Homo sapiens: one gene and its partner. The protein of the gene in region 1 purifies or fractionates together with the protein of each later gene. This does not show direct contact. Each region holds a gene or a part of one and is shown on either strand. Other genes may lie near its edges. The genes, in order: ANKRD28 and ARHGEF2.

Evidence for each region.
Region 2: the proteins of ANKRD28 (region 1) and ARHGEF2 purify together in Homo sapiens (affinity purification with mass spectrometry; 3 studies listed by BioGRID and IntAct, with this or other methods). This does not show direct contact.

What each region holds. Positions count from the first base shown.
Region 1 is NC_000003.12:15,790,729-15,806,837, forward strand, and holds the start of ANKRD28 (serine/threonine-protein phosphatase 6 regulatory ankyrin repeat subunit A), read right to left. Parts: upstream 7,252-16,109; 5' UTR 5,794-7,251; coding exon 5,677-5,793; coding exon of another isoform or gene 5,668-5,676; intron 4,579-5,667; coding exon 4,495-4,578; intron 1-4,494. UniProt on the Homo sapiens protein: Regulatory subunit of protein phosphatase 6 (PP6) that may be involved in the recognition of phosphoprotein substrates. Involved in the PP6-mediated dephosphorylation of NFKBIE opposing its degradation in response to TNF-alpha.
Region 2 is NC_000001.11:155,945,548-155,961,547, reverse strand, and holds the end of ARHGEF2 (rho guanine nucleotide exchange factor 2), read left to right. Parts: intron 1-3,151; coding exon 3,152-3,228; intron 3,229-3,665; coding exon 3,666-3,835; intron 3,836-6,578; coding exon 6,579-6,646; intron 6,647-8,719; coding exon 8,720-8,920; intron 8,921-9,312; coding exon 9,313-9,432; intron 9,433-9,561; coding exon 9,562-9,629; intron 9,630-9,771; coding exon 9,772-9,807; intron 9,808-10,014; coding exon 10,015-10,065; intron 10,066-10,211; exon of another isoform or gene 10,212-10,275; coding exon 10,276-10,719; intron 10,720-11,065; coding exon 11,066-11,249; coding exon of another isoform or gene 11,250-11,279; intron 11,280-13,532; coding exon 13,533-13,606; 3' UTR 13,607-14,694; downstream 14,695-16,000. UniProt on the Homo sapiens protein: Activates Rho-GTPases by promoting the exchange of GDP for GTP.

The DNA of each region.
Region 1 (16,109 bases):
AACACAAGGATGCCCACTGTCACCACTGTTATTTAACATAGTACTGGAAGTCCTATCTAGCTCAATCAGACAAGAGAAAGATATCAAAGGCATACAAATTGGGAAGGAAGAAGTCAAATTATACCTGTTTGTTGGTGATATAATCTTATATTTGGAAAAACCTAAACATTCCACAAGAAAACTAGAACTGATAAATTCAGTAAAGTTCCAGAATACAAAATCAATGTACAAACATCACTAGCATTTCTATATGCCAACAGTGAACAATGTGAAAAAGAAACTAAAAAGTAATCCTGTTTACAATAGCCATACATAAAATTAAATACTTAGGAATTAACCAAAGAAGTAAAAGATCTCTATAATGGAAACAATAAAACACGAATGAAGAAAATTGAAGAGGACACCAAAAAATGGAAAAATATTCCATGTTCATGGATTGGGATGAATCAACACTGTTAAAATGTCCTGGCAATCTATAGATTCAATGCAATCCCAATCAAAATACCAATGGAATTCTTCACAGGAATAGAAAAAATACTAAAATTTATATGGAACCAGAAAAGACCCAGAATAGCCAAAGCCACCCTAAGCAAAAAGAACAAAACTGGTGGAATCCCATTATCTAACTTCAAATTATGCTACAGACCTATCGTAACCAAAACAGCATGGTACTGTCACAAAAACAGACACGTGTACCAATAGAACAGAACAGAGAACCCAAAACCAAATCCAAACACCTACAGCAAACTCATTTTTGACAAAGGTGCCAAGAACATACACTGGGAAAAGACAAGTCTCTTTAATAAATGGTGCTGGGAAACTGGATAAACACATGCAAAATCATGAAACCAGACCCCTATCTCTTGCCATATACAAAATTCAAATCAAAATGCATTAAATACTTCAAACTGAATCTAATACAAGAAAACACTGGGGAAAATCTCCAGGACATTAGTCTGAGCAAATATTTCTTGAGCAATAGCCCACAAGCACAGGCAACCAAAGCAAACATGGACAAATGGGATCACATCAAGTTAAAAAGCTTCTGCACAGCAAAGGAAGTAATCAACAAAGTGAAGAGACAACCCACAGAACGAGAGAAAACATTTGCAAACTACCCCTCTGACAGGGGACTAATAACCAGAATATAAGGAGCTCAAACAACTCTACAGGAAAAAACCTAATAATCTGATAAAAAATGGGCAAAAGATCTGAATAGACATTCCTCAAAAGAAGACACACAAATGGTGAAAAGGTTCTCAACATCACTAATCATCAGATATCCAAAACTCAATGAGATATCATCTTGTCCCAGTTAAAATGCCTTTTATCCAAAAGTCAGGCAGTAACAAATGCTGGTGAGGATGTAAAGAAAAGGGAACCCTTGTTCACCATTGGTGGGAATGTACAACCACTACGGAGAACAGTTTGGAGGTCCCCCAAAAAACTAAAAATAGAGCTACCATATGATCGAGCAATTCCACTGCTGGGTATATATCCAAAATAAAGGAAATCAGTGTATCGAAGAGATCTGCACTCCTATGTTTGTTGCAGCACTGTTTACAATAGCTAACATTTGGAGGCAACCTAAGTGTCCATCAACAGATGAATGGATAATGAAAATGTGGTACATACACACAATGGAGTACTCGTCAGCCATAAAAAAACAGACCCAGTCATTTGCAACAACAGGGATAGAATTGGAGATCATTATGTTAACCGAAATAAGGCAGGCACAGAAAAACAAACATCACATGTTCTCACTTACTTGTGGGATCTGAACATCAAATCAACTGAATTCATGGACATAACAGAAGGATGGTTACCAGAGGCTGGGAAGGGTAATGGGGGGTTGAGTGGGAGGTGGGGATGGTTAATGGGTACAAAAAAATAGAATAAGACCTACTATTTGATAGCACAATAGGGTGACTATAGTCAATAATAACTTAATTGTATATTTTAAAATAACTTAAATAATGTAATTGGAATGTTTGTAACTCAAAGGATAAATGCTTGAGGGGATGAATACCTAATTCTTCATGATATGATTATTTCACATTACATGCCTGTACCAAAACATCCCATGTACCCCATAAATATAGACACCTATTATGTACCCACAAATTTTTTTTAAAACCCACTAAAATAAGAAGAAAAATCTATTAGGTGTGTTACTAAGAAACGTGCTGTTTAGTGGTCTACAATATTCAAAACCTCAGGGTGTGACTAAAGAAACTCATCTAAAATTATACAATGACTATTTAATGGTAGAGAAATAAATCTGAACTTATATCCATTCTAAAAATGAATAAAAACAACTTCAAAAAACTTAAGAGAAACCTGAGTTTCAAAAAGTCCAACGTTATTCTCCAAATACTTATTTAAATAAATTTACTTTGGAAAAACACGACTGTCACACTGACATAAAGCTTAAAAATATTTTATTACCTATTAAAAGTCAGTGCATTTAACACCCATTGCCTTTTAAAACCCCATATGATTCCTTATCAGACAAAATCAGATGATATTTACCATCTTAAATTCAAATAATGGCCAAAAAGTTAACAAATCTTGACTTTAAGGCAACACTCTCAACTACTAAGAAAGGGTCACGAGAGAAAAGGCCTAAAAGCAATCATAAAAGTTGTTGTCAAAAACCTTTGTATCACTGAAGACAATTGTCAAAGAGTTACTCTCAAGAAAGGCCTACTGATGAGTGAGCTGATGCTCTCAATGACTCTGAATTTTTTTTTAATTTAGGATAAATTGATTAAATATAACATAAAAGTAATGTCAGCTACAATAAACTTTGTAATGATGGAGAAATTAGCCCTGGTAAATGGAATTATAGTTCAAACTTTCTAATCAAGGTAGTATTTGTCAGTACTATTAAAATAAAACCAAAATAACAAGAAAACCTTAGGAGTTAAATGGAAAACATGTTTTCCACCTTTTCATGCGTCTATACCCCTTGAGCTATTTTCTAAGAAACGCATACTCTTCAGTATACCCTGGGTAAAGTAGCCAGACACTTCATTTAAAACAAATAAATCATGGCCCGGCACAGTGCCTCACGCCTGTAATCCCAGCACTTTGGGAGGCCAAGGCGGGCCGATCACCTGAGATCAGGAGTTTGAGACCAGCCTGGCCAACATGGTGAATGAAACCCTGTCTCTACTAAAAACACAAAAATTAATCGGGCGTGGTGGCAGGTGCCTGTAATCCCAGCTACTTGGGAGGTTGAGGCAGGAGAATCGCTTGAACCCGGGAGGCAGAGGTTGCAGTGAGCGGAGATCATGCCACTACACTCCAGCCTGGGCAACAGAGCCAGACTCTGTCTCTAAATAAATACATACATACATACATACATAAATCCTGAATTAGGTGCATGTTTCCAACTAAATATAAACTTGAAGGCAATTCACTTAGAAAAAATTTTAAAAAATATATAATGATAGCATTCTGTTCATTACCCAATGTTAAAATTAACAACAGTTTTAGCCAATGATTCAAATCTATTCAGATAATTCATTATTTTAAAAATAAGGTAAAACTTTTTTGTATCTACCTAACATTAAGTGGTCACAGCAGTATTATATTAAAAAAAAAAGGAGGAAAGATGAGAGTTAAAAATGAGCTTGCAATGGGTGCTTTCTTAAAACCACAATCATTTCTAGGTCATCTGTTTTGGTGTTGCCACAGCGACTTTGTGAATCATATGACTTTTCACCCCCTCCATAACTCAGGGGTACATTTGTTTCTGGTAAAAATATATACATTAGTGGATGTAATTTTGTTAGAGTACGTAATGTACTTTCAGCCACAACTTAGTAAACTAAATACTGGCCACTGAAAAAACATAACAGAGAGAGAAAATTATCCATATATCCACCTTTCTAAAACTGTCCATCATGTCAGCACTGAATATACTACTGTATCGTTAAGTCTGAAAACTTTTCCAACAATGACTTTACTGAAAACCTAATCTGACAAAAATTAATCAAGCACCATTGTAAAACACTCACCATGATTATTTACAAAAAGCAAATCTGATCTTATATTTAGATATACACTTACAAGAATCCTCATTTGAAATGCACAGTTAAGTATTTAATGGTGAAGTATCATGATTTCTGCAACTTACTACATATATATGTAAAAGTTGTATATTAATAAATACAGAAAGCAAATGTGGCAAAATGTTATCAATGCCAAAAGTAAGTGAAAGGTATATGGGTAGTCAGCATGTTTTTTTAACTTCCCTATGTTTGAAAAATTTCAAAGTAAAAAGCTGGGAGAACAAAAGACCCCTACTGGCTGCTACTGCCCTGAGTATATGTCCAGTGTTTTCCCTTTTGCCTCAATACCTTCCTGCCCTCATTTAAAACAACTGTTACAGAGTTATATTATGTCTTGTAAACAAAAATCACAATTCTAGGAAAGAATTTTAAAAAGCAGTTTTAAAGGCTGGCATCAGTGAATTAACTGTTTTACCTGAAAGTTAACATCTTCTTTCTTAAATATTAGTGCTCGAACTTCATCAGGATCTCCGTTAAATATAGCTTGCACCAGTGATGGCTAAAATAGAAGAGAGTAATAAAAACATTAGAATCATCCATGTGGGGTGACTAAGGATATTTTACATAGTTCTGGAATCTACAAGTTTTCTTCCCTGTAGCAATAATCACTTTTGACATTAGCCAGAAGTTTCATAAAACCAAATCATGTCAAAGTACAGGATTCCTACTTGGAAAAAAAAGGCCTAATTAAAAAAAAAAATCAATTCAGTTTGACCCAATTTAGGTAGTATAATAAACAAAATCAGATTTTATTTCTTGTAAGTAGAAGCCTTTTGTTTCTGTATATGACAAAAAGAAAGACTCTTCCAAATACAAATGTGTGATCTCAACATCTACTTGTGGGACAGAACTTTTTAAGCAATTTCCAGCCCATGAAGGAAGGCTTTTTTGAAAAGGTCTGTTTGGGGCATCAAATTATCTTACATGGATTAGCATTACATGTATAAAGATACAAATCCCAAGAAAGCAAACCTGGCAGTTGATGAAAATAGCCACTAATCAAAGACCAAAAAATACTGGATACTTAAATAACTTGAAAAGACAAACACATGCATAACTAAATATAATAATTTCTTAATCAACGATACAGCCTCTTGATAAGGTATACTATACTAGTCAAGGAGCCAGCTGACAGTAGCACTAAAACCAAGGTTAAAGATGAAGACTGAATCTCATATAAAGTCTTATATGTAAATACATAAAATTCATTACAGAAAAGGCCATGCCTTAGTGTTGCTGGGGGTAGTCAACCTTTCCTAAAATATGCAGAGTTCCTGATTCTTGTTACATCAGTTTCTGAAACCACAAAATGAAAACAGAAACGTGGTTGCCATAACTACTAATTCTCAAATTATTTTTAAACAGTCTTTTAAAGAGATTAAGACATAGTAAAGACTGAAATGTTATCTCAGCATTCAAAAAAGTAAAAACGAAAAATGTGCATTTTATACAAAAATACTGCATCATATCTACACACGTATTGCTTTAATTTGGGTTTGTAAAGAAACTATTGGAAATTTACATCTATTCTTAAAAAACAAGATTTATACTACTAGTTCAGTAGAATATAGTAAACATATAAACTTACATATCTTACCAATACATTTCCAGAAGGTGGAGAATGTAGGGATTTATTTTCCTGTGGCAATTTAGAAATGAATGCAGGAGATTCATCTTCTACCTCCTCCAAAACAACAATACACACTCGACTCATTCGATCTTTTAAAACACTAAATTCCAAGCTATGTGATAAAAGTCACAGTTGGAAGAGCACAAGTAGTTTTTCCTCCTCTTCTGTACAACACTTACAAACATTCTCTGAACAGCACAGCTGGGTTTTTTTTTTTTTTAAAGTTAATAAGTACTACTGGAAAAACAAGTTTAAAATTATGACTACATAATTTGTAACTTCCTAAATATAACGAAATTCTATTATTTCTGTTGGATTACTGCAATACTTAAGAAGAAATTTCACACCAACATGTCAATAACTAAAACTGAGTCCAAGCTCATTTAAAAATATTTTTCCTCTACCAAAATAGTCTTATTGCTCTATCTCTGAAATTTACTTGCACAAAACAATCATTGTTTTTGGTGACACAACACCACACAATATAGAATGAAATGAGAAACAACTGCTGTGACAGAGATGATCACAGCGATACCCACTCTTGCCTGCAAGGTCATATAGTTACCAGTAGCTGTTTTGCTTATAATTGAAAATAAAAAATAAAATCTCACTATTCTGTTTCCACTTCTAATTTGTCTTCATTTCTTCATCACTGGTTTAATGCAGATACTATTCACAGAAAAAAGATCTAGAGCTCAGCACAAATCCTGAAAATGAAGCTCAGAGGTTAACAATTCTTTCAGTGTTTGGGAAAGGGGCAAAAAACAAAAACAAAAAAAAAAAAACCACTCTGCATTAATAGCAAAGCTGCAGTACGTTTACATGTGATGAGTCAGACCACAAGAGACAATACGACTCTTGGTACTAGAATACAGCTTGATTAATCCAGGTTTCCCATATAATAGAAGAAACACAGTTAGCTTTATTCCCATCGATAGCATAAGCAAGGCAGAGCGTTCATTCTTTCTCCATCAGGCAGTTGTCTGTGGCTGCTCCAGCAAAAGGGCACAGGCACCAGGCAGAAATGGTGTTAGTGGAGAATCCTAGTAGAACAAGCAGGCTGTGAAGGAATTAGAAGGCATTTGAGCTCAAATTACTGCTTCAGGCTTTTTGTTTTCTTTAAAAAAAAAAAGGGGGGGGAAAAACATAGTAGTGTATCATTCCAGTGTTTCCTTTGATCTCCACATGAATACAGCTTCCATTAAACAGTCTTCATTCAGAGAAAAAAATAGCAGACTGTGCATCTTCTTTGAGCCAACTACTTTATTCAGTCATCTGCCTCTTTGCCAATATAGTTTCCTTCCACTGTGAAAACCGCCACAGTTATCCTTTTCAGATTTCAAATGCTTTCCTGTTCCTCAGATGATCTTGCAAAACACCACTGACATCCCCAAATGAGTAGGTCCTTAAAAAATATCTATAGAACCTCAGTATCAGTCCCACAGAAGCATTCCAACGGAGCAACAGTCTGAAGAGCAAAGACTGCAGACCCACAGGATGAAATGCCTAGTAATGCTCACATGTTACACTTACCAGAGATCTGAGCTACTTCTCGGGATGTAACTTCCTCTAGCAGGAGAAAAAAATAGTGCATTTGGACAGCCTTCACAATTAGAAGGTTCATGCCAGTTCTGTGACTAATCCAAATCAAACTAAAAAATTCTATAACTGAAAAATGAGTGCGCTTTTAACATTTTCCACTAAAAGCCACAAGGAAATCTGGTGTACTGCCTCTGCTGACTAACAGTGGTTTTAGCAAGTAAACAATTCCAAACGGCTTAACTGCTTTCGTGTGTTACAATAAAGCAAATGTTTAACCCTATAATGACAGTTGCAGTAAGAATATGCCTGCAATGGACTCATAAAAAAGGTTTAAAGATGGAGAAATATTTTATTAGATTATAAAAACCATGAAATTGTTTTATTCATATTTTTACCAAGATCAGTTTTAATCTGCCAGGTGTATTTTATTTTCTAGAATGCAAAGCTTAAACAAATGAAATTTAAGATTGTCTAACAATTTCTAAATTGGTGAATTTAATCAATCATTGATTCATATTTTAAAGGGAAAAGCAAAAATTTCATAATGTAGAAATCCTAACTCTAAAATTATATAAATCATTTGATTTTTCACTGAAGAAATAAAATAATCCTACCTTCCCATTTGGATAGGGAATAAAGCCTTAAAAATCTGTTAAAGAGGTACATGAAAAAAAAAATGTCCTTCGTCCTGAATTACCTATGTCAAAAGGGCACAGGGTAATACAAATAATCTCCCTCCCTATAAATTTCCCAAAGCCATAAATAAATGTCAAAGCCAATCATTTCATCGTTTTTTTTCTTCTTTCTCTGTTTACCCAACATGGGGGATATTTCTCAAGAGAAAACTTACAAAGAAAATACCATGGTCCCCCTTCAATCTGTGTTCTTCATATTAACTAGCATTTTTATTAATAAACAATAATAAACATAATAGTTACTTTTGAACATCTGTGATATGCTATGTGCTGTACATTCTCATTTAATACAATAACCTTGCTGTATTCCCATTATAGAGGGAAAAACAGACTCAGAAATGATGTATTTTACCCAAAGTTGTATAAATTAATAAAGTTGTGTGTTATTTTAAACACATACTCTTTCTAATCTATTCTGCTATCACTGAGTACACACACATACAGACACACTCTCTTCTCTCCACTCATCTCCAGATCTTTGCAACCTGTAATACTAGCTTATAAAAGTGATCTTAACAAACAGGTAACCTATAAAGGTTGTGAAAAGTTTAGGTAACAAAGGAATATACTATTTATTGCTATATTCTAAAACGAGTTATTTTTAAATGGGTACTTCAAAGCAAGTCTTAAAACCATAAAAAGGAAAAAAAAAACAAAAAATCCCAGCATGATACAAATATAAGAATGTCAGAATTTAAAACAAGAACCATTGAAAGCTATAAAATGTATCAATCTATGGAAGAAGCAATAACTCTAACATATTTGTACCAATTAAAACATGCTAACAATTCATTAGTTATATTTTAAAATATATAAAATACTTTTATGCCAAATTAAAGGTATGTAAATATTGAACATACATCAATTATGTTATCCATCTCCACATAGCTGAATCAAAAAATCTTAATATTTGAAATATCTGAAAGTGAAACAACTATAGTAACAATATCCTATATTTCATCTTCAGGGTTCCCAAGCCCACAAAGCAAAATCTCTTTTTATCTTAACAATCTTAACTTGTTCCAAAGTATCTAGTACCTAAGTTCACCTACTTAGACTTAAGCAGGTACATCCTGTTTCTTGTTCTAAGTCAACCTCCACACTTAGGTCTTTCCCAACCAGAAAACAAACTCCTTGAAGGTAGGGACTGTGTTCATACATATTGTCTCCTTCCACTTTCTTCCACCTATAAATAATTTCATTGAAATGAATTCTGTCGTCACGAGACTCTGGAAGGGTGGAGATTTATAAACAAGAATAGTGGGGGTGTGTTGGTATACATATATTTTAACCAGAAAATATAGGTGGCATTAAGGTGCAACAAAGTGAGTTTCATATCTCTAATAAGTGAACAATTAAAATTTCAGAAGTTGACAGGATATAAAACAAAGGTATGGGGTGATGGTTAAAACTAAGGGCTCAGGAGTCAGCCCACCTGAAGTTCAATTCTGCTTCCATCATTTCCTAGCTGTGTCCTTGGACAAACCACTTAAATTCCCTAAGCCTAAATTTCTTGACACTTATATAAGAAAAAAATAACCTGCAAAGATTTTTGTCTAAGAGAAATAGAGTAACAGTACAGTGCTTGAGAATGTAGGCTATTTTGTGGTCAAATTGCCTGAAGTTCTAATCCAGGCTTCCCACTAACCTAATTCTGGGATCCTGGGCTACTCACTTATTTAGTAACCTCTCTGTGCTCATTTTAACATCTATTAAATGACATTAACAGAATTTACTTCATAGTGTTGTGAAATCTAAACAAGATAACCTTACTGTTATGGATATTTGGGATAGCTGAATGATATCCCTTGTGAAGCCAGTGAGTGGATCAAAGGCTATTAAACTCCTCCTCCTCTTGACCCAGTACAAGTGAGGTAATTCAGATTAATGTCTGGAGATCCCATTCAGTTGCCAAGTCCCCACACTTTTCAGTGATCTCTTGAGAGTCTGCTAAAAGCTCATTTTAGACTCTAGTAACTAGACAAGCACATACTAAGTGTTAATTGGGGAGAGGGAGCAGTAAACTTAGGCAAGAAAGACTACAGGTTCTTCCATTCTTCTACCTTCACTAGATTTTACAGTTTAGGGACTGTAAAATTCCTTTGGGAAAAAGGATAGAAAGTACTAGCCCATGGTATATTATAAAATCAAAAGCAGATAAAAAATACTAAGAGAAATATGTCAGTTTTTAAATTATTTAAATTAGCAGCACTGTTTTGTGTCTTCTTCTATTGAATAAGACAGGCTCCTACCCTCAAGGAACTCACATCTTAAAAGGAGACAAGTGAATATTTAAGAACTTAGAAACAGAGAAAGTACTTCTGATAAAAAACTGCTGATAAAGATTGTGCAAACTGTAAGTTCAACATTTTTTTCCACTTAGAGAAATATCAAGGGGATGTGGTTATTTTCTTTGGTACTTATTTTTTAGGCCATATTAGATTAAGTTTTTAATAAGCTAACAAGTTCAACTCTGACAGCTTTATAATCCTTCTATTCTTTATACTAAAATGTATCCTATTAAGAGCTTACTCCTACTATTAATGGAATCACATAATGGTAAAGCTGGCTTAAACCTTTTTACTGATTATAAAAACATTAAGTCACTGGAAGATAATTTTTGGGTTCCTAATTGTTACACCTGAATTTCTTTTTTTGACACAAACGATTTTTCCTTTCTGCAACAAGATCCAACCTAAACCTCACCTTTTGTCTTACACATCTGTGAACTCCGTATTATCATAGAATAGAATACTCAGGGTATATTAAGTGGCTACTCTGTGGCAAGTAACAAGCTGGTCTCTGAGTATTTGAAAATAAAAAGCTTGTGGTGAAAGATGGTAAGGAAGTGGGTTCAAACAATGTTATAGAAAACATTTCTGACAGATCAAGAATCCTCACCAATCTTCTTGAGCTACGCCTCATCTATCCATATACTTTAGGAAAAAAAAGTCTTATGAACAGAGTTAAAAGAAAATGAGGTAGAGGGTGAGTGGGGAGAAATCAAGGAATAGCTGCTTTCTAGGCTACACAGGCCAGAATCCATGCAATTATCTATGTGATTATTAGAGCCACTGCAAGAAAGTCACTAGGTATTCAAAACACAACTCAAAATCCTCATAATAGATCAGACTTAACTCTCTGCAGGTAATATATTTATGATCCAGGACACTTATTTTTTATGCAGTCATAATGCCAAAATGGCCATTAACCAATATCGTTTGACGATCTCAAGTGGTGTGATCCCACTGGTACGTTACATTCGTAATAATAAATTGTTAACCCTTCCAATATTAATAGTACTGTATACTGCAGATTGTTAGCACATTCTAATATTACATGTGTTTTCTGCAGAGATCTGTATTTTGTGTCCATTCCTCCAGGCTTCCATTTCAGCTTTAGGTAAGTACAGAGCCTCACACAATAAAGACTACATTTCTCAGCTCTCTTGTAGCTAGGAGCCACATGAAAAAGTTTGACCAAAATTTTAAGTAGGTGTTGTGTGCCTTTCAGAAAACTTTCTTAAAGACCAACTAGCATATTCAGCTTGCTTCCTGGAACAAAGATGATTGGCCACTATCTTAAACCAAACAAGGACCATAGTCTAGGGTAGTGAAACTACACTAGAAGGGAGCTGGGTCTTTGAGGACTTTGCCAAACAGAACTGCCATACAAGCCTTGGACTGTCTACTTTCTGACTTTTATGTTAGAGAGAAATAAAAAGTCCTGCCTTGTTTAAGAAACTGTAATTTTGCATCTCTGGTACTTGGAGCTGAGCCTAACTCTAAATGATAATCTTACTCTTCCTTTAATTATCTATGAGTGGACATATATCCTTCGAGCCCTGTTCTTCCAACATCCATACTCCAGTACAATGTGGCTACTTAAATCTTCAATAAATAAAATGAGTTAGAAACTTGAGCTGTAACATATTGTACTAGAAACAATAATCAGAAATCTGCTGGAAAATAATTCATATTTTCCTGGATAAGCTAAGGACAATCAGAGGAGAGAGAAAGAGATGGAAACAGTTACCACAAATATTCTCAATCATCTTCAGCCACCATTTTGGTGGGTACTGTTATCAAATCTCTAAATGAGAAACAGGCTCAGTAACATCTAGTCAGCCAATCACTTATCTGCCCCATCCATTCACCTAGTATACATTCATCTACTATGTGCCAGTCTTTCTGCCAAGCTGAGAAAACAAAATTATGAATAGTCAATCCTTGTTCTAATGAACCATACACACAAATAAATACTATATGACTGCAACTGTGATAAATTCTCGAATAAAAAAAAATGTCTGAAAGACAAGGAACTAATGGGTGGCCCATGTGGCTGGGGAAGCAATCATGAGGGACAATATCACATGCAGTTGGAGAAGTGGGTATGGTCATGTGATAGAGAGGCCTTGTAAACCAAGTTATAAAGTTTGTATTTTTCATCAATTGAGAACTCATTAAAAATTTTTAATTAAGGAAGTCATGATTTGCTTTTGCTTTAAAAACATTATGTGGCTTTGATACGAAGAACGGATTAAAGGGGTAGAAGAATGGAAGTCAAAGGACTAGTTAGGAGACCACTGCAGTAATCCAACAGAGTGGGTGATCTGAATTAGGACATGATCATATAGGTGGAGAGACAGAAATATATTTTAGAGGCCGTGCACGGTGGCTCACACCTGTAATCCCAGCACTTTGGGAGACCAACGTGGGCGGATCATGAGGTCAGGAGTTTGAGACCAGCCTGACCAACATGGTGAAACCCCGTCTCTATTAAAAATACAAAAATTAGCTGGGTGTGGTGGCGCGTGCCTGTAATCCCAGCTACTCAAGAGGCTGAGGCAGGAGAATCGCTTGAACCTGGGAGGTGGAGGCTGTAATGAGCTGAGATCACACCACGGCACTCCAGCCTGGCGACAGAGCGAGACTCCATTTAAAAAAAAAAAAAAAAAGAAATATATTTTAGAAATAGGATTTATAGGACATGTTAATAGACTGGCTACAAGAGTGATGGAGAAGATGATAATCAGAAACCTCCCAGGTTTTTGACTTAAGCAACCAGTGCTTATTGGAGTTTAAGAAATTTGGGACTTTTTTAGTTTCCAAATTTATACAATGAAGAATGTTACTTGTTACATCAATATCTAAGGTGCATTTCATGCTCTCAAACTCTGTTTTAAACTTAATACAGAGCCCATTATCTTAGCATCTACCCTCATGACTTCTAAATGAAATGTTAAATCCCAAAGTTGCCTACATCTAGGTGAATATTAAAAAAATTCATAAAGAATGGTGAGATCTGGCTCAATTCTACTCAATCCAGTACACTGAAATTATCTAAAAGTCTTTTGGCAAGAATACCTTACTTTTTAAAACACTCAACAAAAATACCACAGCACTGATTAAACAATTATTAGACATTCATATCTCTACTATACATACCATGCCAAGGAATTATAAGGTATCATATATCACCTTCAAACTCCTTATGCAACTTAAATAGGGCATTATGTCATACACGTAAAAATCTAACCAGTACAAGATAAAAGACAGTAAAAGACAGTATATACTGAAGGCCGAGATATAGACTATACCTGCTACCAAGTCCATCATAGGAAAGAGTGTAGCATATGAAGTTATTAATTGTAACTGACATATACAGATACCTTCTAACTGTCCATTCTCTAAAAAAATGGATATTTTAATAAAACTCTCCATAAACCTCATTATTTTGCTCCTCCTTTAATTTATAGGAAGGGTGCTTTGTCAAAGAAATCAATGGTCTGCTAGTTAGAACATTCCATGTAAAAACTCTATCACATTTTTCAGAAAATGGTTGAAGATTCAAAACTATCATTTATAATATATAATTGTTAAAAGTGAGTATAAGTGACTGTTGAGCAGTTAAAAGCAATGGCTCACGGTGTCCAGGATAGATAAGAACAAACATACAGAAGCAAAGGTAATTACAGCAAATGAGACAAGTTGTAGGATGTGGTCATTGAGGTGGTTACAGCCAAGTGGAGGTGGTTACAGCCAAGTACAGATGACTGCTGGTGTGGAGGTTGTTAAATAGTTAAGTATGTTCAAAATGTCATCTACAAAGAAATGAAATCACCTAGATGACAGACAAACATGATCCAGATGTGGAACTGGGGTATGAGATGTGACAGATGATAGCAACAAGAAATAGAAGGATCACCTAGCCAAATGGTATGTGCCTCAAAGGAAGGAAGGTTTTTATAGACAGGCAGACTAGTAACATTTTAACACTATAATGGGGGACTAGAAGAATGCTGACTTTGCGCTCTTTCCTCCTCCCAACACACATGTACTTACGTAGCAGGTACTTACGAAAACAGAGTTTCACTGACTTTTCCAAGTAAGTGTAGATTCAACAGTTACACATATGAACTTAAGGTTTAAATCAATATTTAGATGACTATTTTTAGATTTCAGCCTTAAGAGAATTACTTCCTTCCAAAAGAATATAAGTAAAAAATTCAACAGGCCAAACTAACACAGGTTAGTTTTCTAGAATACACCTAATATGCCAAAACTAAGGAACAAAGGGAGAAAAACTACTCTGTTAGCAAGTATGTAGTACTGCATTTAAGTAATGTCTTTAAAAGTTAGGTTATTTTCTTCATAATTTTGATTACCTTGAGAAGCAGTTTGAAATTAAGGAAAAGGACTCATCATTTTAGAGGTCTTTTTTTTAAAGTTGTGATACTTTTTAAAATATCCTAGTCAATCTGATTAGTAAAATTTTTAGCTAAGATATGTGATGAGTAGTATCTCTGACATATGACTTATGTTCTATCAGGCCAAGGATAAACACATTCTCTGAAATCTACATTATTATTTGCAAAGTTAATTATTGTTCAGCAACTGTATCAAAGACAATTTAGCCCTCATATTAAAATCAGTTGAGTGCAAAATTTTTATTTTAAACAGGCTGAATTTTGCCCTTCTTAAAAAAAGATTGAGGAAAGATTATGTGCAATTCATTCTGGTTTTTACAATGTGGTGATGCCAGAGTAAATGTAGTATGAAGTTAATGCACTTTAAAAGCTGAAGGGAGAAAATTTTCAGTTTTAAAATAAGTTGCTATGGTTACAAAATGTTTACCTTTATAAGCAATAATTATGTGAGATGTCCAAGGAATTCCCGAAAGTACAGTAAGATCAGTATCTGAAGTGTACATTCGTTATTTCACAAACAAACTGAACCCAACTGCATACATCACTTCCGTTTCAAAGTGGCTATCGTTTGGGAAATACTAAAAAAAAAATGATTCATGTCTTTCTGAACCATATTGGAGACAAAAATACTGACCATAGCTATTTTTAAATTCAAGTAATGACTCAGAGAGTTTTAGTTCCTTTTATCAAAGAGTGCTGTAATTTTACATAGCACCTTCTATTGTTGAAAGAAGGAAGGTATGTTTGTAATGTGTCTCAGGTGTGGAGTTTCTTTTATACATAAATTTTCACGCCTTCGATAAACTTTTAAAAAGCCATGCTTGTAACAATGTTAATTCAGAGTAAAACGATGTCAACTCCTTTAGCTGTAGACAATTTTGAACTTCTTAAATGGGAAGAAGAGGCCCCTATAAGAATTGATAATTAGCCCATTCCTAACTAGGTTGTTAAATCCGCTATCAGTTACTGTATTGTAGAAATTTTTTGTGTGTCTGTGTTTTACATTTAGAACATTCAGTTTTGTAAGACTACTTATAAAACTTTCAACCCCATATAGCTGATCTTAAAATTAGACGCTCATCATTACCTCTTAGAAGGCAGCTATGCTCACCACTATACCAACACTGCTGCCATCATCACATCTTTTTTTTTTTTTGAGACAGAGTCTCACTCTGTCACCCAGGCTGGAGTGCAGTGGCACAATCCCAGCTCACTGCAACCTCCACCTCCTGGGTTCAAGTGATTCTCCTGCCTCAGCCTCCCGAGTAGCTGGGATTACAGGCGCATGCCACCACGCCCAGCTAATTTTTGTATTTTTAGTAAAGACAGCGTTTTACCATTTTGGCCAGGCTGCTCTTGAACTCCTGACCTCAGGTGATTCGCCCACCTCGGACTCCCAAAGTGTTAGGATTACAGGCATGAGCCACCATGTCCGGCCCATCATGACATCTTAA
Region 2 (16,000 bases), on another chromosome or scaffold:
AATCCCAGCACTTAGGGAGGCCGAGGCGGGCGGATCACGAGGTCAGGAGATTGAGACCATCCTGGCTAACACAGTGAAACCCTGTCTCTACTGAAAATACAAAAAATTCGCCGGGCGTGGTGGTGGGCGCCTATAGTCCCAGCTACTCAGGAGGCTGAGGCAGGAGAATGGCGTGAACCCAGGAGGCGGAGCTTGCAGTGAGCCCAGATTGCACCACTGCACTCTAGCCTGGGTGACACAGCAAGACTCCATCTCAAAAAAAAAAAAAAAAAAGAATCAACCTCCCTTTATGCAGCCCATACAACAGTGAGACTCAGTGGGAGAGAAAAATAGGATCTCTGTGGCAGAAAAGCCTGAATTCTGCAGTTAACTTTATGGACCATACAGGGCCTTCCCTATCAGTATTTTATAATTTCTTTGGTCCTTGCATGCCTAGAGAGCTACTAGTTTTACTGAGGAAGACAAAGAAGCTCTCAGACTGGAGGACAGGATCAGTTGATTCCCCCAGCTGGAATCCCAGCTACCAGGGATGGGAGTAAGCAAGAGCTTTGGGGAGCGCAGCCAGAGGAGGCCCAGAGGAGGGGACTGAGCCGGTGAAGGACAGGCAGGGAGGAGAAGAGACAGCAGGGCAGAGGGAGCAGATCAGGGGCCAGGGCACACTTTCCCAGGCTCTCTTTCCAGAATTTGTCTGCACTGGCAAAGTCTTTCTCACCTAAATCAAAGCAAGAGAATAGCAGGCCTTGGCTTTGGGGATGAGATGTGAGGGACAATAGGAAACTGTGATACCTGAGGCCAAAGCCTGCCTGAGCCTCTGTACCTGTGTCATGAAATCCCTGCTCCCTGGGTTTGGATATTGTCAGTCTTCACCAGCCTCTTTCCTTTATCCCTTTCTCTCCTTCCCATCTCTCCCACGCAGCAGCTAAGAATATAAACCATGGGGGATTAAAAATAGCAAGGCTGGAGAGTGTTATTTCTGAAGCATTTAGCAAAAGCCCTCCCCTTCTGTGTGCCCACAGTTTAGTAAAATCCCCAAGGGCAAAGGAGGAGTGTATGTTTTCTCTCTCTTTTTTTTTTTTTTTAGAAACAGGGTCTCGCTTTGCTGCTCAGGCTGGGGTGCAGTGGTGCAGTCATAGCTCACTGTAACTCAAACTCCTGGGCTCAAGTGATCCTTCTGCCTTAGACTCCTGAGTAACTGGGACTACAGACCTGCACCACCACACCCAGCACATTTTTAAATTTTTTGTAGAGATAAGATCTTGCTATGTTGCCTAGGCTAGTCTTGCTCAGACTCCTGGCCTCAAGTGATTCTCCTGCCTCAGCCTCCCAAAGTGCTGGGATTGTAAATGTGAGCCACTATGCCTCGCCCTCTGTTTTCTTGATTGTGACATCCAAGTTTTATGGAATTGATCTTTGTTTCCTCCCTCAGTCTTGGAGTGCTGACCCCATAGGATCTGAGAGCTTGGAGTGTGAAGCAGAGAAAGAAATTGAAGCAGGGGCCTGCTGGGGTTGAAGGAGATGGGTGGGTGAGGGATGGTCTTTCAGTCCTCTGCGAGAGGAAGGAAACTTTCTCCCTCCCTACCAAGCTCAAAATTAGAAGTGGGAATATGCCAGGACAGGGAGAATTTAGGTCAGATAGCCGTAAAGGTCTTCCTTAGTTAGATATTAGAAATGGAATTTAAAGGCTAAAAAATGTGGTCCAGGCTGGGCACGGTGGCTCATCCCTATAATCTCAGCACTTTGGGAGGCTGAATCAGGCAGGCAGATCGCCTGAGGTCCGGAATTCGAGACCAGCCTGGCCAAGATGGTGAAACCCCATCTCTACTAAAAATACAAAAATTAGCCAGGCATGGCAGCATTCACCTGTAGCCACAGCTACTTGGGAGGCTGAGGCATGAGAATCGCTTGAACTCAGGAGGCAGAGGTCACAGTGAGCAGAGATCACACCACTGCCCTCCAGCCAGGGCGACAGAGCGATACTTGGTCCCAAAAAATAAAAAATAGGCCAGGCGCAGTGGCTGATGCCTGTAATCCCAGCACTTCGGCAGGCCAAGGCAGGCAGATTACTTGAGGTCAGGAGTTAGAGACCAGCCTGGCCAACGTGGTGAAACCCCGTCTCTACAAAAATGCAAAAAATTAGCCAGGTGTTGTGGCGTGCTCCTTAATCCCAGCTGCTCAGGAGGCTGAGGCAGGAGAATCGCTTTTTCCTGGGAGACAGAAGTTGCAGTGAGCCAAGATGGCACCACTGCACTCCAGCCTAGGCGACAGAGTGAGACTCCGTCTCAAAAAAATAATAATAGAATCAAATTAAATTAAAAATAAATAAAAAATAAAAGTATGGTCCCTCTTGCTCTGGGGAACCTTATGAATCTCACAAAAATCTTGGACCCTGTCACCCAAAAAAATACACGAGTTATGTTAATATGTAAAACTATTTACACACCTTCAGAAGGTTTACAGAGCCACTGAAGCCTGACATCCCAGGGGGTCTGTAGGCCCTAGGTTAAGAAACCTGAATCAGTCAGGTAGAAAGGGTTTTCTGTAGACACTGAGTGATCCCTGTGGTTCCTGCTAGCCCACAACGCTGTTTTGTCTGATAGCACATGAATCTTTCTGCACCCTGCCCGCCCCCCACCCCCCACCCACACTGTTTTTAAGCTGTAAGAATGTGTGACCAGGCGCGGTGGCTCATATCTGTAATCCCAGCACTTTGGGAGGCCGAAACTGGTGGATAAACCTGAGGTCAGGAGTTTGAGACCAGCCTGACCAACATGGTGAAACCCCGTCTCTACTAAAAATACAAAATTAGCCGGGCATGGTGGCACACGCCTGTAGTAGTCCCAGCTCCTTGGGAGGCTGAGGTAGGAGAATCGCTTGAACCCGGGAGGCGGAGGTTGCAGTGAGCCAAGATTGCACCATTGCACTCCAGCCTGAACAACAAGATGAAAACTCTGTATCAAAAAAAAAAAAAAAAAATAGAATGGGTGAGGTGTGAGAGGTCTGAAAAAGTGCAAGCAGCCAGAGGGAAGAGAGGCCAGGAAGAGGGAAACTGGGAGCTCTAACCTGATGGGATAAGCCTGGTCCTTGGGAAAGAGGGAAGCAGCTGCTCAGACCGTCTAGTGCTGACTGTTCTCCCACCTTCATCCCCTTCCAGATGTGCTAGTGCTGCTGATGACAGATGTACTGGTGTTTCTCCAGGAAAAGGACCAGAAGTACATCTTTCCTACCCTGGTGAGACATTCATTCTTCACCTTTCTCAGCACAGACAAGTGTTTTAGTCTCTTCTTGCTTTCCTGCCCAAGCCCACGAGAGCTCTGGAGTCCCCCAGAGTCAAACAGCTATAATTGTTACTATTACCGTAATAATAAAAAATAAGAGCAGCTCACAGGTACTGTTACTGTGCACAGGCACTTTTACACCTGTGGGAAAAGATTATTTTCGTCCTCATTTTATAGATGATGAAAGTAAAGCTTCAAGTCAGTTAAATAATTTGTCAAGGGTTGCACACATTTCTAAGTCCCTTCTGGCTGGCACCAGTGCCTGGCTCTTAACTGGTATTGTAAGATGACTCTTCAGTCCTTTCAGTCCTCGTCCAGAAGGATTGAAGGCCTAAATATGCCAAGGGACAGGATTCCCAGGCTTAATCCTTCCTTTCCCCTGACTGGCAGGACAAGCCTTCAGTGGTATCGCTGCAGAATCTAATCGTACGAGACATTGCCAACCAGGAGAAAGGGATGTTTCTGATCAGCGCAGCCCCACCTGAGATGTACGAGGTGCACACAGCATCCCGGGATGACCGGAGCACCTGGATCCGGGTCATTCAGCAGAGCGTGCGCACGTGAGTGTCTGCCTGCCGCCTGCATGTGCTTATGACCTCAGGGTACCTGCAGCATTAGATCCCAACCATAGAACTCCCTGGGAACAGAATCCAGCATTCAGAGGTGGGGGAAGAGGTTGAGGGAGAGACAAAATGGCCCAAGACTGGAAAGGTCACCTATGTTCTTATGTCCTGTAAAGCCACATTTTATACATTGCCAACCTCAACTCCCTTTCAAATTCAGCATGAGCTGACAAGCAAGGGAATACTTTGAGCTGTCACATGGTGGCATACCTGCCAGCCAACAGTACAATTTCAGCTGCATTCACATGTTCATCTGTAGGCAGAGGGCTGTTATTTGGATTGTATTGTATTTTACATTTATTTTTCTAAAAATGAATGAAAAAGAGGATAATGAAAGCATCGATACTAGAGAGGAACAAGTCTCATAAACAGACTCAACACAATAGAAGCAAGAAGGAAATCAGTGTGTCAAAGCAGCAAATCTTTAGCTTCTATTGGACACACATTAGATTTGAGGCAGTCAACTATGTGTCTAATTGTGATGGGAAAAAACATCAAATAAAGCACAGGTAAGATGTTTAAAATGGATTCTGGAAGATTATGCCTAAAGAATGAAGTGTAAGTGTAATTCTAATTCAGATTTTTACAGGTTTTCTTTCTTTTTTTTTTTTAATTTTTTTTGAGACAGAGTCTCGCTCTCAGCTCACTGCAACCTCCACCTCCTGGATTCAAGCGATTCTCCTGCCTCAGCCTCCCAAATAGCTGGGACTACAGGTGCCCACCACGACCCCAGGCAAATTTTTTTTTTTTTTTTTTTTTTTTGGAGACAGAGTCTCTGTTGCCGGGCTGCCTCAGCCTCCTGAGTAGCTGGGACTACAGGCTCACGCCACCATGCCCAGCTAATTTTTGTATTTTTAGTAGAGACGGGGTTTTACCATGTTGGCCAGGATGGTCTTGATATCTTGACCTCGTAATCGACCCGCCTCAGCCTCCCAAAGTCCTGGGATTACAGGCATGAGCCACTGCACCCAGCCAAATTTTTGTATTTTTAGTGGAGACGGGGTTTTGCCATGTTGACCAAGCTGGTCTCGAACTCCTGATCTCAGATTTATCCGCCCACCTCAGCCTCCAAAAGAGCTGAGATTACAGGCATTAGCCACCATGCCCAGCCAAGATTTTTATAATTTTTCTTTAGCTTTCAGGGAATCAGTTCTCAACTTTATAATTTGTAAACCTTTTTTTTTTTTTAACTTCTGCACCATGGAATTTTGAAAAGGTTTTTAGAAATGCATATAAAAGTATGAAATTGCAGGCCAGGCACAGTGGCTCACGCCTGTAATCCCGGCACTTTGAGAGGCTGAGGCGGGTAGATCACTTGAGGTCAGGAGTTCAAGACCAGCCCGGCCAATATGGTGAAACCTCGTCTCTACTAAAAATACAAAAATTAGCCGGGCGTGGTGGCATAAGCTTGTAATCCCAGTTACGCGGGAAGCTGAGGCAGGAGAATCGCTTGAACCCGGGGGTGGAGGTTGCAGTGAGTCAGGATTGTGCCACTGCACTCCAGCCTAGGTGACAGAGTGAGACTCCATCTCCAAAAAAAAATTATGAAATTGCCTATTCCAAGAAAGCAGTTCAAAATAACCTGTCCTGTTGACAGATCTGTAGTGGCTTCTTTATTAATAGTATTAATATTTATAATTGTGGCCAGGCGCTGTGGCTCACACCTGGAATCCCAGCACTTTGGGAGGCTGAGACAGGCGGACCACTGGAGTTCGAGACCAGCCTGGCCAACATGGCGAAACCCTGTCTCTACTAAAAATATAAAACTTAGCCAGGCATGGTGGTGCGTGCCTGTAGTCCCAGCTGCTTGGGAGACTGAGGCAGGAGAATCACCTGAACCTGGGAGGCAGAGGTTGCAGTGAGCCAAGATCCTGTCACTGGACTCCAGCCTGGGCGAAAGTGCAAGACTCTCTCTCAAAAAAAAAATTATAATTGTGGAAATTAATAATATTAATTGTAATTGATTTGTTGAGCTTCTGTTATGTTCAAAGCACTTTAACATTTCATTTAATCCTAATGAAAAACCTATGAGGAAGATATTACCTTCATTTTTCAAATGAGGAAATAGAGAGGTTACCACCTGGTAAACAGTGGAGCCAGGATTTGCATCCTGTTTGCTTGATGCCAAAGCCTGTACTTGACCCTCTGCACTGTGCTGCCTTTCCAAGCGACCTTTGGAGAGATATATCTCAGTAAACGCAGATAATCAGTGCTAAGAAATGGGAGAAGGTCGGCCGGGCGCGGTGGCTCATGCCTGTAATCCCAGCACTTTGGGAGGCGGAGGATCACCTGAGGTCAGGAGTTTGAGACCAGCCTGGCCAACGTGACGAAACCCCATGTCTACTAAAAATACAAAAATTAGCCAGGCATGGTGGTGCGTGCCTGTAATCCTAGCTACTCAGGAGGCTGAGACAAGTGAATCACTTGAACCCAGGAGGAGGTTGTAGTGAGCTGAGATAGCGCCCTTGCACTCCAGCCTGGGTGACAGAGTAAGACTCCGTCTCAAAAAAAAAAGAAAGAAAAGGGAGAAGGTCAGGACTAAATTAAAGCTAGGGTGTGAGGCTGAGGAGTCTTATCAGAAGATGGAAGCATAAGGCATGTTTGGGAAGGAGGGAAGGCTGATTCTGGTCTATAACCTAGCTTCTGTCTCTCAATGGCATGCGACCTGTTACCCCTCCAGATGCCCATCCAGGGAGGACTTCCCCCTGATTGAGACAGAGGATGAGGCTTACCTGCGGCGAATTAAGAGTAAGTCCACCCACAAGGAGCTCCTTAGTAATTTATAATACATTCACACAATGGAATATTATGCAACTGTTAAAAAGATGAGATGGCTCTATGAGGGCTGGTGTAGATCCACAACTGAAACATATTAAGTGAAAAAAGCAAGGTTTAAAACAATGTAAAGTGTATACTACCATGTGTGTAAAAATAATATGGAAGACCAAGGTTGGGTGAGTAACTTACTTTTTCACTGTAAGGCCTTATATTAGTTAGGGTATGATTTAACTGCTATACTAAAAGACCACAAAAATCTTCTTCCTTAAAAAAGGAAGTAGATTGGCCGGGCGCGGTGGCTCACGCCTGTAATCCCAGCACTTTGGGAGGCCGAGGTGGGCGGATCACGAGGTCAGGAGATTGAGACCATCCTGGCTAACACGGTGAAACCCCGTCTCTACTAAAAAATACAAAAAAAAAATTAGTCGGGGGTGGTGGCGGGTGCCTGTAGTCCCAGCTACTCAGGAGAGTGAGGTAGGAGAATGGCATGAACCTGGGAGGCGGAGCTTGCAGTGAGCTGAGATCACGCCACTGCACTCCAGCCTGGGCAACAGAGGGAGACTCCATCTCAAAAAAAAAAAAAAAAAAAGAAGTAGATTGGCTGGATGCAGTGGCTCACGCCTTTAATCCCAGAAGGATTTGGGAGACAGGAGGATCTCTTGAGGTCAGGAGTTCGAGACCAGTCTGGGCAACAAAACATACATAGCAAGACCCTGTCTCTACAAAAAATTAAAAAAAAAAAAATAGCTAGGCATGATGGTACACACCTGTAGTCCTGGCTACTCGGGAGGCTGAGGTGGGCGGATTGTTTGAGCCCAGGAGTTCAAGGCTGTAATACACTATAATTGCACCACTGCACTCCAGTCTGGGTAACAACAACAACAAAAAAAACCCCAACAAGGTAGAATATTATTGCTGTCAACATAACAGTTCAAAGTGGGAAGTGCAGAGTAGTGGTGCAGCTCTGCCATCTTTAACATGAAGTTTTCATCTCTATGTCATGTCTGAAGTGGCTACTCCAGCTCCCACTGTCACACCTGTATCACACCTAGCAAGGAGGAGTAAAGGAATAGAGTTTATACCCTTTTTTCTTTTTCTTTCTTTCTTTTTTTTTTTTTTTTTTTTGAGACAGGGTCTTGCTCTGTCGCCCAGGGTGGAGTGCAGTGGCGTGGCGTGATCTCGACTCACTGCAACCTCCATCTCCCACGTTCAAGTGATTCTCCTGCCTCAGCCTCCCAAGGAGCTGGGATTACAGGCATCCACCACCACTCCTGGCTAATTTTTGTATTTTTAGTAGAGATAGGGTTTCACCATGTTGGCCAGGCTGGTCTCGAACTCCTGGCCTCAAGTGATCCACCTGCCATGCCCAGCCTATACCCATTTCTTTTAAGAGCAGATCTGGAAGATGCTCATATCCATTGGCCAGAATGTAGTCATGTAGCAATATAGTCACGTGCAAGTCAGGCTGGAAAACATAGTTGTTAACTGGGCAGCCATGTGTGCCCAGATGAAACTTCTATGCATTTTCTCATTAAAGGAAGATGGAAAGAATGAACACTGTTGGACAACCTGCAACCCCTTCCACAAATCTTTTTTTTTTTTTTTTGAGACAGAGTCTTGCTGTGTCGCCCAGGCTGGAGTGCAGTGGTGTGATCTCGGCCTCACTGCAACCTCTGCCTCCTGGGTTCAAGCGATTCTTGTGCCTCAGCCTCCTGAGTAGCTGGGACTACAGGCGCGTGCCACCACACCTGGCTAATTTTTGTATTTTAAGTAGAGACAGGGTTTTGCCATGTTAGCCAGGCTGGTCTTGAACTCCTGGCCTCAAGCGATCCACCTGCCTTGGCCTCCCAAAGTGCTGGGATTACAGGTGTGAGCCACTACACCTGACCAACAGAAAGCTTTTTCTTTTTTATAAATGCCAAAATAACAAAATTAAGTCTGCCACACTGCCCCACCCTACCCCTCTCCCCTAGGGCTGTCCTCTACTGGCGCTCTTGCATACCCCTACGTCCTCTCATGTCCTCACTTGTTCCTTATCTGCAGTGGAGTTGCAGCAGAAGGACCGGGCACTGGTGGAGCTGCTGCGAGAGAAGGTCGGGCTGTTTGCTGAGATGACCCATTTCCAGGCCGAAGAGGATGGTGGCAGTGGGATGGCCCTGCCCACCCTGCCCAGGGGCCTTTTCCGCTCTGAGTCCCTTGAGTCCCCTCGTGGCGAGCGGCTGCTGCAGGATGCCATCCGTGAGGGTGAGGGAGCTCCCAGGGAAGAGTCCAGGCTCAAGCACTCACCGTCACAGAATGTGGACATGTGACTAGACATGGACAAACACAGACAAGTGGGATGCCAACCCTATAAACCATAAACGGCCCTGAGTGCCTCTTCTGGGCCAGTTCCTGGGAAAGGCAGGGGAGGAGGTGTGGTCCTTGCTGCTGCTCCATATCGTCCATGCTGCATGGACTCTGCTGCCTCGTAGGCATTTACTGCCCTTTACCTCATCAGTGGTTGTGTGAGTGAAACCCCACTGCCAGTGCAGGGGGCATTCCCCCAGATGCCCAAGTGTCCCACATGTGGGGGTGAATGGCATTCCCCTCAGGGTCCTGTGTCATTCCTGTTCTCACCTCTTCCTCTTTCCCCACAGTGGAGGGTCTGAAAGACCTGCTGGTGGGGCCAGGAGTGGAACTGCTCTTGACACCCCGAGAGCCAGCCCTGCCCTTGGAACCAGACAGCGGTGGTAACACGAGTCCTGGGGTCACTGCCAGTGAGTACCAGGGCAGGGGACCAAGGTAGTAGGTGGGAGGGGCCAAAGTTAGTAGAGTGGTACCAGGGATCAAGTGGTATCAGGGCCCCAGGGAAGTGAGCTCAGCCATCCTTTTCTCCTTCTCAACAGATGGTGAGGCCAGAACCTTCAATGGCTCCATTGAACTCTGCAGAGCTGACTCAGACTCTAGCCAGAGGGTAGGTCCTCAAGAGGTTCTGGGACTTGGCAAGAGGGTGGGAGAGGGACAGCCAGCCTCTGGATCCTCAACACAAAGCTGTCAGGGGCAGGCACCCAGGATTTGTGTGCCTGCTGACTCCCCATTCTTGCCCATTTCTGCAGGATCGAAATGGAAATCAGCTGAGATCACCGCAAGAGGTGAGATGGGAATTGATGGTATAGGAGACTGAAGGGAGGATGTTCTTAGTCTGAGTAGTTAGAGCCCAGTTTGGAGTGGGGTGGGGAAAGCGTCTACATTCAAGTATGTCTCCGGATCCTACTGTCCCCACACCCACCCTTGTTCAACTTTTGGGCAGTTCTCCCATCCTAAAGCTGGGGCCCTGTTCCCACCCTGTCTGTCCTCAGGAGGCGTTACAGCGATTGGTCAATCTCTATGGACTTCTACATGGCCTACAGGTCAGTAGGACAAGGGCTTGAATGGGGAAGGGGAGGAGCCAGGCTAGAGATGCCTGTTTAGGTGGGGCATGGTCATCCCAACAGGCCTTTCTAAATACCCTCCCAATCCAAGCTCTCCAGGAGCGATGATCTGGGCCTTGGAGGGTGAAGGCGAGGGGTAGAAGAGCACAGGGGTTCTGATAAACCCTTCTGCCTGCATTCTACTCCCAGGCAGCTGTGGCCCAGCAGGACACTCTGATGGAAGCCCGGTTCCCTGAGGGCCCTGAGCGGCGGGAGAAGCTGTGCCGAGCCAACTCTCGGGATGGGGAGGCTGGCAGGGCTGGGGCTGCCCCTGTGGCCCCTGAAAAGCAGGCCACGGAACTGGCATTACTGCAGCGGCAACATGCGCTGCTGCAGGAGGAGCTACGGCGCTGCCGGCGGCTAGGTGAAGAACGGGCAACCGAAGCTGGCAGCCTGGAGGCCCGGCTCCGGGAGAGTGAGCAGGCCCGGGCACTGCTGGAGCGTGAGGCCGAAGAGGCTCGAAGGCAGCTGGCCGCCCTGGGCCAGACCGAGCCACTCCCAGCTGAGGCCCCCTGGGCCCGCAGACCTGTGGATCCTCGGCGGCGCAGCCTCCCCGCAGGCGATGCCCTGTACTTGAGTTTCAACCCCCCACAGGTAAGGTGGCCTGCAGTGGTGAATGGACCTGGGGTGGACATAAGGGTCCATGGAGCCCGAAAGAAATTGGGCCATTGGGGATTTGAGCCCAAATGCAATCAGTCAACTGACTTGAAGGATATTGAGATACTGGTTGGAGAACTGAAAAGAAATGTAGATGGGTGCAGGGGTGGAGGAAATTAACTCGGGTCGTGGTGCTGAAAGAGGCCAGTTGGTGGTGGATCTCCTGAAGGGGACTCATGGGTGAGCCCCAGGGGGGAGAGCTGCTGCCTTCAGCCAAGCAGAACCTCCAATCTTCACACTACTCAGTCCCTGACCTGCTGTTCTTCCTGCCCACTGTCCACAGCCCAGCCGAGGCACTGACCGCCTGGATCTACCTGTCACTACTCGCTCTGTCCATCGAAACTTTGAGGACCGAGAGAGGCAGGAACTGGGGAGCCCCGAAGAGCGGCTGCAAGACAGCAGTGACCCTGACACTGGCAGCGAGGAGGAAGGTAGCAGCCGTCTGTCTCCGCCCCACAGTCCACGAGGTGAGACCCTGGCGGAGACATGGACCAGAGGTAGAGTGCAGCCTGGGTACAGGCCATTGGGCTGTGGCTTCCAAATGGGCCCTAACTGACCTGTGAGGCTTGTAGTAACTCTAGGGAGGGACTTCCTGTTTTGTCTGATGATGAATGGGTGGTGGAAGTCTAGGAAGCAGGAGGGGCCTCTCTCCTCCAACTGGTTGGTGATTCCCAACCTTTAGAAGTAAAAACAGATTCTTTTTTAAAAAGGCATGGCGGCTCAGGCCTGTAATCCTAACACTTTGGGAGGCCAAGGCAGGAGGATCGCTTGAGCTCAGAATTTTGAGGCCAGCCTGGGCAACATAGTGAGACCCACCTTCTCTACAAAAAAAAATTCATTTATTTATTTTTTTATTTTATTTAATTAATTTATTTCATTATTATTTTTTGAGATGGAGTCTTGCACTGTTGCCTGGGCTGGAGTGCAGTGGCGTGATCTTGGCTCACTGCAACCTCTGCCTTCCAGGTTCAAGCGATTCTCCTGCCTCAGCCTCCCAAGTAGCTAGGATTACAGGCGCCCACCGCCACGCCCAGCTAATTTTTGTATTTTTAGTAGAAATGGGGTTTCACTATGTTGGCCAGGTTGGTCTTGAACGGCTGACCTCGCGATCCACCTGTCTTGGCCTCCCAGAGTGTCGGGATTACAGGCATGAGCCACCACGCCTGGCTAAATTTTTTTTTTTTTTGAGATGGAATTCTCACTCTGTCGCCAGGCTGGAGTACAGTAGTGAGATCTCCGCTTACTGCAACCTCCGCCTCCCAGGTCCAAGTGATTCTCCTGCCTCAGACTCCCGAGTAGCTGGGACTACAGGCACATGCCTCCACGCCCAGCTAATTTTTGTATTTTTAGAAGAGATAGGGTTTCACCATGTTGCCCAGTCTGGTCTCAATCTCTTGACCTCATGATCCGCCTGCCTTGGCCTCCCAAAGTGCTGGGATTACAGATGTGAGCCACTGCACCCGGTCTATTTTATTTTATTTTATTTTATTTTATTTTATTTATTTATTTATTTAAGATGGAGTCTCACTCTGTCACCCAGGCTGGAGTGCAGTGGCACAATCTCAGCTCACTGCAACCTCCACCTCCTGAGTTCAAGTGATTCTCCTGCCTCAGCCTCTCGAGTAGCTGGGATTTACAGGCATGCACTACCACACCTGGCTAATTTTTTTTGTATTTTTTAGTAGAGATGGGGTTTCACCATGTTGGCCAGGCTGGTCTCGAACTCCTGGCCTCAGGTGATTCACCCACATTGGCCTCCCAAAGTGCTGGGATTACAGGTGTGAGCCACCGTGCCTGGTCCCCCAAAATTTTTTTAATTAGCCAGGTGTGGTGGAGTGAGCCTGTAGTCCTAGCTACGGAGAGTGAGAGTGAGGTGAGAGGATCACTTGAGCCCAGCAGGTTGAGTTGACAGTACTCCGTGATTGCTCCAGCCTGGGCGACAGAAAGAGACCCGGAGACCCAGACAGAGGATCTCACTCTAAAATTTTTTATGTTAGAGAGAGGGTCTTGTGCTGTTGCCGAGGCTGGACTCAAACTCCTGGGCTTAAGTGATCCTCCCAAGTAGCTGGGGCTACAGGTACATACCACTGTGCCTGGGAAGGTATAGTTTTTTGTTTTGTTTTGTTTTGTTTTTTTTGAGACAGTTTTGCTCTGTCACCCAGGCTGGAGTGTAGTGGCACAATCTCAGCTCACTGCAACTTCCACCTCCCAAGTTCAAGCAATTCTTGTTCCTCAGCCTCCCGAGTAGCTGGGATTACAGGCGCATGCCACCACATATAGCTAATTTTTGGCATTTTTAGTAGAGATGGGGTTTCACCATGTTGGCCAGGCTGGTCTCCAACTCCTGGCCTTAAGTGATTCTCCCACCTTAGCCTCCCAAAGTGTTAGGATTATAAGCACGAGCCATGGGGCCAGTTTTTAAAGTAAAAAAAGTTTCAAAGAACTTCAAGTTTTTACAGTTGGTTCATGAAATAAAAAATTACCAAAAGCTTTAACCTTAAAGTATTTTGTATTTTCCTAATCAAATTGTATCTTTGGATACTGTAAAAGTGTATCCGGTACCTAGGTATGGATACCTTGCTTACTTTGTTGCCAAAGGTTTTCCTCTCACCCAAGAATTTACAGAACCCTGTCATCCCTTCACAGCCCCAGAGCCCCCTGAGCCTGCAGATGGGGAGGCATTAGTCTAGGGGTACAGTTCCTCATGGGAGTCTCTGCTAACTCACTGGCTTTGTCCTGTCCCCCTTCAGACTTTACCAGAATGCAGGACATCCCGGAGGAGACGGAGAGCCGCGACGGGGAGGCTGTAGCCTCCGAGAGCTAAGGGGGCCCCTCCCCCCTGCCCCGTGCCCCACTGAAGAACATTACTGAGGGGGCTAACCTTGGGGACTCCAATTTGCCAATGATGAGGGAACATTTGAAAGAACTGCAAATTGTCCTTGCCAGCTCTTGGGATCCTTGGATACCTGGGGCCATTTAAGAAGCTAGGGGAATTAGGCCACAACACCCCCTGGGACATCCGAAAGCTACACCACAGATGCCAGTGGTTCATGCCTTCTTCCCGCAACTTTAGGAAAATTTATTTATTTATTGTTTATTAGTTATGGGGGGAGAGGGGAGATTTAAAGGACCAGGGACATGGGAACCAAGCCATAGGGATCAGAGGGCCTTGTCCTTGAACACTACTGGGGTATATTCAGGCTCATCCACGCAGCTGCTGGGTTCTTGCCCTAACGGCCCTCCCCTGCAACATCCGTCTTGGAGGAGAGGCTGCAGCCACAGCACCCTACTGCCCTTTAAATAAAGGAGGGCTGTGGGCAGGGCCATGTCCCTTTCTCCTCTCCCCTCAACCTCTTACTGCTGTTCTCCCTTTCTCCGTCCTTCATGGAAGCCCTGGGAGATAACCTGGCTTCCTGGAGTTGATGGAATAAAGGTTGGGGTGGCCATAATGGTTTGTTGGGGGTGAGGGAAAAAACCCACAGGGACCAGAATGTTTTGTTGTTCTTTTGTTTTCTTTTTTGTACCAAAGTCAACTGCACGTGTTTTATATTTTTAAGAGATCGTAGGCAATTAGAGATCGAAGCCTCCTATCTCCACATCTCTGAAGAAGTTGAGGGGTGGGGGAGAGAATGACTTCTGCCTTCATCTGCAGTAACGGGGGGACCTATACTGACCTCTTCCCCAGCCATTTAGAAACAAGTTCTAGGGTGGGTTGGAAAATCTCCAAGAGCCCTGACCTCATCTTCCACCTCAGCAACCATGACCTGAAACCTCAGCGTGAATTTGGGGGATTTTTCAGTGGAACCCTTGCCCCCAAATGTCGACCAGCCCCCAAATGTCGAAGAATTTTCTTCTTGCCAATTTTGTTGTTTAAAAAAAAAATTCAGGGAAAATTAAAAACCTGGAACTCCATAAGGTACTGTCTTCCATAATGTCTGCCAATTCTGAGGAGGATGGTAGTAGAGAGCCGGGCAGTGACCTAAGTTCCTCTGAAAGGGGCCTTTTCCTCTCACCGCAAGGACAGCCTCTGCCTCACTGAAGAGAGGGGGCACTAACAAAAGTAACCACTGCAAATCTTTTTTTTGTTTTTTTAATTCACAAATACAAGGATAAAAACAAAGGGGCACACAGGTTCCAATGTTGGGAATTCCGGTATCAGGAAAAGTGTGTTCATCGTATTTGTATGCCATGCTCAGCAATCACCTCCACCTATTGCCCCCATCCCCAGTGTCATTCATTGTCAGATCCATCCCCCACTAGGCCCTTGTTGATCTCCATGATGTCGGGCCCTGGGGTTACCCGTCACAGGAGCTGCTCATTTACTGTCCCTCTTTGAGAGGCAGTGAGAGATGAGCTGGTTTCAGTTCTTGGTTTTAGTTGGTTTTACTTCCTGTTCCCAGTTGGTACTTACTTTGGGGCTGTGGGGGAGGGGAGGAGGTGAGAGTCTAGGGTTGTATAAATGCTGGTATGAATTCACATCCCTGTTGGAGCCTGTGGGGTCAGATCAGGAGAAGGGGGCTCAGGCCCTCAGCTAGAAAGAGGAATTGAAGTCACATGGGGAGCAGGCTGGGGGAGCAGCCAGCACCCTCCCCTTCTGTAACTCTCATCCACCAGCATCAAGCCTTTACAAGGTGCTTTCTCAGCCATTACGGGGATCCTGAGAATGGGGAATTGTTCTCATTTTATGGGCCGGGAAACCTAGGTGCACGAAGCTTGCCAGGCCAGGAGGGGGCCGGCCTTCTTAGTTCCAGTCCACCACTTTTCTCTCTTGGCTACTCTGCCTAAAAATACCAGGGCTGGCTGGGTGCAGTGGCTCACGCCTATAATCCCAGCACTTTGGGAAGCTGAGTTGGGTGGATCACTTGAGGCCAGGAGTTCGAGACCAGCCTGGCCAACATGGTGAAACCCCATCTCTACTAAAAATACAAAAATTAGCCGGGCGTGATGGCGGGCACCTGTATTCCCAGCTACCTGGGAGGCTGAGGTGGGAGAATTGCTTGAACCCGGGAGGCAGAGGTTGCAGTGAGCCGAGATTGTGCCACTGCACTCCAGCACTCCAGCCTGGGTGACAGAGCAAGACCCTGCCTGGAGAAAAGAAAAAAAAAAAAACACCAGGGCTTCACATTTCACACACAGGGACACAGGGCTCAGCAGCTGTCTTCCAGGTCAGCTGGAAGTATCTCCGACCCAGAGCTGTGAGGGTGGCACCTTTAGGTGG